Linked DNA regions of Homo sapiens: region 1 is linked to region 2. Evidence: fine-mapped expression QTL. A gene starts in region 2. The other region holds a variant in brackets. All regions are shown on one strand. Distances are between the middles of the regions. Region 1 has its middle 15 kb from the start of PTPN5. Region 2 holds the start of ZDHHC13 (zDHHC palmitoyltransferase 13).

What was found. PIP is the estimated chance that this variant, and not a neighbour inherited with it, causes the effect. A credible set is the group of variants that fine-mapping cannot tell apart.
Region 1: its variant is the best candidate, but not a certain one, in a credible set for the expression of ZDHHC13 in monocytes after Pam3CSK4 (Quach 2016, PIP 0.60).

The regions. Positions count from the first base shown.
Region 1 is chr11:18,804,645-18,809,040 of GRCh38, forward strand. No RefSeq gene overlaps it. Among named protein-coding and RNA genes, the nearest start is that of PTPN5, 15 kb to the left of the region's middle. The variant A/G (reference allele first, on the strand shown) is at 2,050.
Region 2 is chr11:19,114,549-19,118,944 of GRCh38, forward strand. It overlaps ZDHHC13 (zDHHC palmitoyltransferase 13), which reads left to right and starts at 2,620. Exons shown (of 17, transcript NM_019028.3): 1 at 2,620-2,728. The coding sequence starts at 2,702. RefSeq lists silencers at 2,350-2,589, 2,640-2,719, 2,810-3,039.

The sequences.
Region 1 (4,396 bases), 310 kb before region 2:
GCAGTGACCCATGTGATCAATGGAGATGATCCGGGTTGCCTCAGAGTTGCAGCATTTAATTTCCAGTGTGAAATTTTTTTCACAATGAACTTTAAACCTCCTGTCAAGATGGAGGTGCCTCAGAATGGAAGCTGCCTGCACTGCTGAGTGGTGAATGTGGAGGACAGCTGCCCTGAGGAGTTGTCCAGACATGCTGTAAACTTTGTATGAACAGGAGTTTAACCTCTACTGTGTTAAATCACTGAGATTTTGGTATCATTTGTTGCAACAGTGTAACCTAGTCTACTCCAACTGTTGTAAGAGTGTAACCTAGTCTATTCTGACTAATATAGTAACATGTTTACCTTAGTAATAAAAAGAATTGTTACCATTTTATAAAATGTAATCAATTAAACAAGTACCGTATTCAAAAATTTTCATGTCAGAATTTCAGAAAGTCACATTAAATTACATTTGTAATAAATGATCATGCTATGCCTGGTTTAAAATCAAGATCACTTTTTCAATTAAGAGATATTGATTTGTGATAAATTGTTAACTGAACCATAGACTTGTAATATTGGCAGGAACCTCAAAATTTCATTTTGCATATCCCACCCACAAGTTCATATACGGGTATGTCTAAACCATCCAATACAACTGAGTTGTCTAAACCAATGGGTTCCAAAACTTCCATCATCAGAAATATTATAACTTAAATAAAAGAGGAGACTCCTAAGTCAGACTTCTGGAATTTTGGTTAAGGAGATCTAGGACAGGACCTGGGAAATGGCATTTTAAAAACTGTACCATGTGATTTCAGTCACAGGGAGGATTGGGAATCCCTGGTCCAGAACATAACTTTCAAATGATCATTACTTCAATTTAAGCTTCACTTAAACTTTGTGCCCATGTTGAAATTGAGATCACTTTTGTAATTTCAGGCCACGTTCTCCAGAAGCAGAATCTGAGGTGGGGATTCATGTGCATGTGATTTACTAAGGAGTGCTCTCAGGGGAAGCCTGTAAGGGAATGGGGAAAGGAGGACAGGGAAGGGGAAGAATCAGGAACACATTCTATGATTTAATGATTTGAAAATGAAACAAACATTTTATTAAATACAGAAATGATGGTATGGTGGAAAAAACATGGGCTTCAGAATTAGATAGACCTGACATTAAAAAATTTAAATTATTAATACTATGTTAGATTGACAAACCATAATTGTATACATTTATGATGTAAAATGTGAAGTTTTAATATAGGTATACAATGTGGCATTAATAAATTAAGCTAATTAACATATCAATCACCTTTCTTGCCTATCATTTTTTAAGGTGAGACATTTGAAATGTACTTATTATGAAATATATTATATAATACATTGTTATTGATTATAGTCAGCCTTCTGTGCAATAGATCTCAAAATCCTTTCCTCTTATGTAATCTGGGTCTTGGTACTCTTTCATCAGCAACTGTTCATTTCCTCCCTCCCCTCTTCCTCAGCATCTGGTAACCATTATTCTACTGTCTACTTCTATGAATTCACATATTTACATTTCACTTATAAGGAAATCGTGAGGTATTTGTCTTTCTGTGCCTGGCTTTTTCACTTACCACAATGTCTTCCAGATTAATCCATGTTGTTGCAAATGACAATATTTCCCCCATTTTAAAGGCTGAATAGTAGTCCATTGAATATGTACACCATATTTCTCTTTATCTGTTGATGGAAACTTAGATCGTTCTCCTACCTTAGCCATTGTGAATAATGCTACAATGAATGTGAGAGTGGAGATACCCCTTCAACATACTGATTTCAGTTTCTTTTTTTGAGACGGAGTCCTGCTCTGTCACCCAGCTTGGAGTGCAGTGGAGCAATCTCAGCTCACTGCAACCTCTGACTCCTGGGTTCAAGTGATTCTTTTCCCTCAGCCTCCCGAGTAGCTGGGCTTACAGGCACCCACCACCACACCAGGCTAATTTTTTTGTATATTTAGTAGAGACAGGGTTTCGCCGTATTGGCCAGGCTGGTCTCGAGCACCTGACCTCAGGTGATCTGGCCACCTC[A/G]GCCTCCCAAAGTGTAATTTCAGCTTCTTATTAATATATACCCAGAAAGGAGATTACCGAGTCCTATAGTATTTCTATTTGTAATACTTGGAGAAAACTCCATACTGTTTTTCATAACAGCTGTACTAATTTACATTCCCATCAACAGTATATAAGAGTTCCATTTTTCTCTGAATCCTCTCTAACACTTGATATCTTATCTCTTTGATAAAAGCCATTCTAACAGGTATGGGGGATAGTTCATTGTGGCTTTAATTTGCATTTGCCTAATGATTAGTGATACTGACCTTTTTTCATGTACCTATTGGTCACTCACATGTCTTTTTTTTTTTTTTTTTTTGAGAAATATCTGTTCAGGCGCTTTGCCCATTTAAAAATTGGGTTATTTATTTTTTTTCTTGCTCTTGAATTGAGTTCCTTACATATTTTATAAATTAACCCCTTATCAGATGTATGGTTTGCAAATATTTCTCCCATTCTATGGGTTGTCTCTTCCTTTTGTTAATTGTTTCCTTTGCTATGCAGAAGTTTTTTACTTTGATGCCATCTCATTTGCCTATTTTTCTTTTTGTTTCTTGTGCTCTTGGGATCCTATCCAAGAAATCCTTGCCCAGAAAATTGTCATGAAGCTTTCCCCCTACGTTTTCTTCTAGTAGCTTTTCAGTTTCAGCTTTATAGTTAAGTCTTTTGCCCATTTTGAGTTGATTTTTGTGTATGGTGTAAGATAAAGGTCTAATTTCTTTCTTCTGTGTGTGGATGTGCAGTTTTTCTAATACCATTTATTGAAGAGATGTTCTTTCCCCATTGTGTATTCTTGGCATGCTTGTCAAAAATCAGTTGACTGTAAATGCAAGGGTTATTTCTGGGTTTTCTAGCCTGTCCTACTGGTCAGTGTGTCTGTTGTATGCCAGTACAATGCTGTTTTGATTGCATTGCTTTACATGTTTCGAAATCAGAAAGTGTGATGCCTCCAGCCTTGTTCTTTTTTTTTAATTAATTAATTTATTTTTTTTGAGATGGAGTCTCACTCTGTCGCCCAGGCTGGAGTGCAGTGGCGCAATCTTGGCTCACTGCAACCTTTGCCTCCCTGCAACCTTTGCCTCCCAGGTTCAAGTGATTCTCCTGCCTCAGCCTCCCAAGTATCTGAGACTACAGGCATGCACCACCACACCTGGCTAATTTTTGTATTTTTAGTAGAGACAGGGTTTCACCATGTTGGCCAGGCTGGTCTTGAACTCCTGACCTCGTGATCTGCCTGCCTTGGCCTCCCAAAGTGCTGGGATTACAGGCATGAGCCACTGCACCTGGCCCAGCCTTGTTCTTTTTGCTCAAGATTGTTTTGGCTATTTGGGGTCTTTTGTGGTTCCATACAAACTTAAGGATTTTTTTCCATTTTGTAAAAAATGACACTGGGGCTGGGCGCAGTGGCTCACGCCTGTAATCCCAGCACTTTGGGAGGCCGAGGTAGGCAGACCACGAGGTCAGGAGTTGGAGACCAGCCTGGCCAATATGGTGAAACCCTGTCTCTACCAAAAAAAACAAAAATTAGTCGGGCGTGGTGGTGCGTGCCTGTAATCCCAGCTACTTGGGAGGCTGAGGCAGGAAAATCGCTGGAACCCAGGAGGCGGAGGTTGTAGTGGGCTGAGATTGTGCCACTGCACTCCAGCCTGGGCAACAGAGCGAGATTCCATCTCAAAAAAAAAAAAAAAAGACATTGGATTTTTGATAGGGATTGCATTGCACCCTTAGATCACCTTGGATACTATGGACATATTCACAATCTTAATTTTTCACACCCATCAACGTGAGATATCTTTTCATTTATTTGTGTAGTCTTCAATTTTTTATTTTTTAGAAACAGGAATCTCACTATGTTGCCTACACTGTACTTGAACTCCTGGTCTCAAGTGATCCTCCTGCCTCAGCTTCCCAAGTAGCTGAGACTACAGGTGCTTACCACTGCACCTGACTTTCAATTTATCTCATCAGTGTTTTATAGTTTTCAGTATACAGGTATTTTACCTCCTTGGTTAAATTTACACCTAAGCATTTAAATTATTTTGTTATTGTAAATGGGATTGTTTTCTTAATTTCCTTTTCAGATAGTTTGTTATTAGTACATAGAAACACTAATGATCTTTGTATGGTTCTTTTGTATTCTGCAACTTTACTGAATTTATCAGTTCTAACAGTTTTTTGGTGGAGGCTTTAGATTTTCTATATATAAGATCATGTTGTCAGCAAATAGAGACAATTCTACTCTTTCCTTTCCTGTTAGGATGTCTTTTTTTTTTTTCTCTTGCCTGATTTCACTGGCTGGGACTTCCAGTACTGTGTTGAAAAGAAG
Region 2 (4,396 bases):
ATTATACTTTAAGTTCTAGGGTACATGTGCACAACGTGCAGGTTTGTTACATATGTATACATGTGCCATGTTGGTGCTGCACCCATTAACTCATCATTTACATTAGGTATATCTCCTAATGCTATCCCTCCCCCAGCCCCCCACCCCACAACAGGCCCCAGTGTATGATGTCCCCCTTCCTGTGTCCAAGTGTTCTCATTGTTCAATTCCCACCTATGAGTGAGAACATGCGATGTTTGGTTTTTTGTCCTTGCGATAGTTTGCTGAGAATGATGGTTTCCAGCTTCATCCATGTCCTTACAAAGGACATGAACTCATATTTTTTATGGCTGCATAGTATTCCATGGTGTATATGTGCCACATTTTCTTAATCCAGTCTATCCCAGCAAAGGTATTTTCAAAGTTGAGAGGTATTGGGGGCAGTTAGAGGCTATCACTGCGTTTGGTTTCATATAGCCATTAGACATGGATATGCTTAATCTGAAATAGCTCACTGGAAGCATAAAACATGAGCAGAGGGAAACCAGGAGCCTGACTAAGGAGTGGGGTGTTCGGATTTAGTTGCTCCAAAATCTTCCAATGTGTTAGGATATTAGTGCAGACGCATTGAAACAGATTTTAAGCCTCCCTCAAGTTCAGCATCTTCTAAATCAGACTTTGAAAATGAAAGAAACAAACTACTTCAGCCAAAATGCTTGCAGTAAGAAACCTGGGTTTGAATACTCTCTTTACTACTTACTTGCTGAGTGACTTGGGGTTTATGGAATCAGCCTGAACCTCAGTTTCTCCTCCCAGGAGATGAGGAAAATACCACCCATCTCGTGGATGAGACATAATGTATGAAAACACTAGCACAGTGCCAACACATAGTAAGTGATGAATAAATAAACCTTTTTTTTTTTTTTTTTTTTTTGAAACAGAGTCTCGCTCTGTCACCCAGGCTGGAGTGTAGTGGCGCGATCTCGGCTCACTGCAAGCTCCGCCTCCCGGGTTCACGCCATTCTCCTGTCTCAGCCTCCCTAGTAGCTGGGACTACAGGCGCCCACAACCACGCCCGGCTATTTTTTTTTTTTTTTTGTATTTTTAGTAGAAACGGGGTTTCACCGTGTTAGCCAGGATGGTCTCGATCTCCTGACCTCGTGATCCACCTGCCTCGGCCTCCCAAAGTGCTGGGATTACAGGTGTGAGCCACCACGCCCGGCCAGAAAGCTCTTATTAGTTAAGCAAAATGACCAAACCCAAACATTCCTTCCTGTATGAATCCTCACCCAATGCCTCATCCTAACTTGTCGGAATTAATTGCTTTTTCCTCTGGCTTTCGGTGGGAGTTGCTTGCACTTCTACTTGTCACTCCATTTGTCCGTGTATTAATGACACGCCTGTACATCCATCCATCCATCATTCATTAAAATTGTGCTGAGCATTTTCCATGTCCCAGTGCTGTGTTAGACACTGGGAGTTCAGAGATGGATCTGACATGGTTCCTATCCTCAAAGGGTTTGGGCTTTTGGGGGCAAGCCAGGGCTGACGTGCCCAAAGGACACAGACACTAAAGCAATAGTAATACATCTACGATTTTATTGTATCATAGCAATATTTTCCATGGAAAACCCAGCACTTTGTTGGATTTCTATTTATTTATTTTATGATTTAGTATTATTTTTATAAAATAAGGAAGTCATAATGTTTTCAGATCGTTTTCAAATTAGCTTCTAAAGGTCTTAATCTGGTTCCACTTGGCAACAGACACATCTAAGGAACCATTACAAAGAACTGTGTTAAGTGCTGGGCTAGAAAAACCCCAGTGTTTACTCGGGGCTGAAGTAGGAGAGCCCCACTGCCCCACTGGAACGCCCCAAGGGAAGGAGCCATCCCTAATGCTTGCTTCATAGACCTTCAAGCTGGACAGGGCTTAAATGCCAGCTCCTCCAGTGCCCTCCACAAAGGGTCGTGGAGGTCAGGGGGGAGGTGCACTTCAAGTGGGAGGCTCTCGCCCACTCCCCCTCTAGCCTGCGCCGTAGAACTCATTTTTTGTTTCATTTGAGGAAACAGAACCTCAGGCGGTAGAGGTGACTTGCCCAAGATCACGCAAATGGAGTGGAAAACATTTAAATAGCTAACATCTATTGATTCCTTTTTATATGTAACGCACGGGCTGAGGGGCTTTACATGCGTTTTCTCATTTAATCCTCCTGATAATTCCATGAAGTAGGTACCCTTATTTTCCTCATTTCACAGATGAGAAAATTGAGGTAAAATAAGAGACTTTCACAAGGTCATTTAGCAATTAAGTAGCCAAGTCCAGATTTGCTCTCAATAGATGGTGGTTGACGTTGGAATAACAGTCTGATCCTGACCCTGGACGCACATCTGGGGCCCGTGGCACCTGGGGCAGGGAGGGGCGCTCGGTCCTGGGCTGGGGCTGGGGGAGCGACCGGCACGGGCGGGCCGGGGGTGGAGCCTCTGGCGAGCTGTTCACAGCGGGCTTCCCAGGAGGTGAGAAAGTCCCGCCCCTAGCCGATGGAGGGCTGGGATTGGTTCTCCGGGACCGATTGACGGCTCAGGGCACGAGCGGGGACCGCAGCGGCGGAGGTGAGGGCGCCAGCAGGAAGTGGGAGAAGAGGCGACCCAAGGCGGGCTGGCGGGCTGGCGGCAGTCGCTACTTGCCTAGTAGCCTCAGCCGCTGTGGGCTCCTGGGGAGATGGAGGGGCCGGGGCTGGGCTCGCAGGTGAGTGCGGCCGGGCGGTGGCTGTCCTGGGGGCCGGGAGAGCGGCTGCAGCTGTGGAGGAAAGGATGGTGTGGGTGAGAGGCCGCTCGATGAGGGGGTTTCGGGAGCGGCGGGGCCTAGGTCTGGGAAGCGGGAGCCTGGAAACACCACGAACGATGCTGGAAATTGTCTCTGAGGCGACTGGGAAGAAAAGGCGAGGACTGAGGGGTGAGGGCCCGAGCCGGCCCCTCCAGCCTCCATCCCTGGCCAGGGCGCCCCCTGGGGCCGGTACCCGGAGCCCGGCGGGGACCTCTGTGGGCCTGGGGAGGGGACGATGGCCCTTCCCGGGAGAGGTGTCAGGTGACACACCTGATTCGGACCCGCCCGTCTTGACGTTGGCCCGGAGTCGGAGCGGTTCTGTTGATTTCTTTTTCAGCCCTGGCGTCTTAGCACCCGCCTTCACCCCACCCAGTCCAGTTTTCGCTCCTGTTTCCGCATCCTTGCTTACTCCTTGAAATAATTAAGGCTGCTTGTTTAGGATGGAGGAAAGGGGCGTGGAGAGGGGAGGTACACCACAGCGATCTGCAGAATCTCAAAGGACAATATTCCGTGGAGGAGGTGTTATATAAAAGCCAGACGGAGGTCCAAAGAAGCCAGGCGGGCCAGTCGGAGAAGTTACAGGAGGTAGATGTTGTCTCCAAGAAAACAAGATTTTTGTGCTTTTTGCTTATGGCCCTTTCCTAGTGCCTAGAGTACTGACTAGTATATTGTAGACGTTCACTTAATATTTATTGAATAAATGCAGAATTTCCAGGTTCAGCCAGTTTTAGTGAGTGCATAACCCATGTCAGATGCTTTCATATGCATTATTTTATTCCAGAATTGAAGCATCCTTAAGAAGATATTATCCCCATATACAGATGAGAACGAACACTAAAGCTGTCTTCAGCTGGAATCAGTTAGGCGGTAGATTCTCAGTTTGGGATGATTGGATTACCTGATCTCTAAAAACGTTTTTCCAGTCCCGAGAGTGTTCCTCATGCTTTCCCTTTCCCTTCTTTCAGCACGATCTTGTGTAGGTTTAAGTGAGGGACAAGATGTCTGGGGAAATGTCAAGGTGTTCTTATTGGTTATTCTTGAATTTTAACAGAAAAAAAATAGTTCTCAGGCAGACTGGATTTTACCAAAGGGTGTTGAATCTTCACATGGAAACAGCGCCTCATTCTTTTTCTCAGAGAGGCTCAAAGAAAAGTTGGTAGGAGTAACTATTATGTCTTAATTACTGCCACTCATTTACAGAAGGCTTCAAGTGCTTAAAGTTCACTCTCTCATGCTGAAGGGAAGATTAGCCTTGTCCCAGTTCCATGGCCTATAGAGAGGGAGAGAATGATTTGGTGGTTGAATTTAGTAGGGAAAGGTAGAGAGATCATTGTCGTTGTTAATAATAATTGCTCTTGTTCACTTTTTCAGTAATGTGAAGACCTCACCTATATATACTGCTTTGCAGTTTGCAAAATACTTCCCCATTTTTGATCCTCACTATAATCCTCTGAGGTGGGGAGAAATGATTATTCTGATTTTAGAAATGAGAACAGAGGCTCAGAAAACTGGAATCACTTGCTACAAGTCAAATAGCTGCTAAGTGATAGAGCCAAGACTTCAGTCGTTCATTCAGCAAATGTGTTTTGA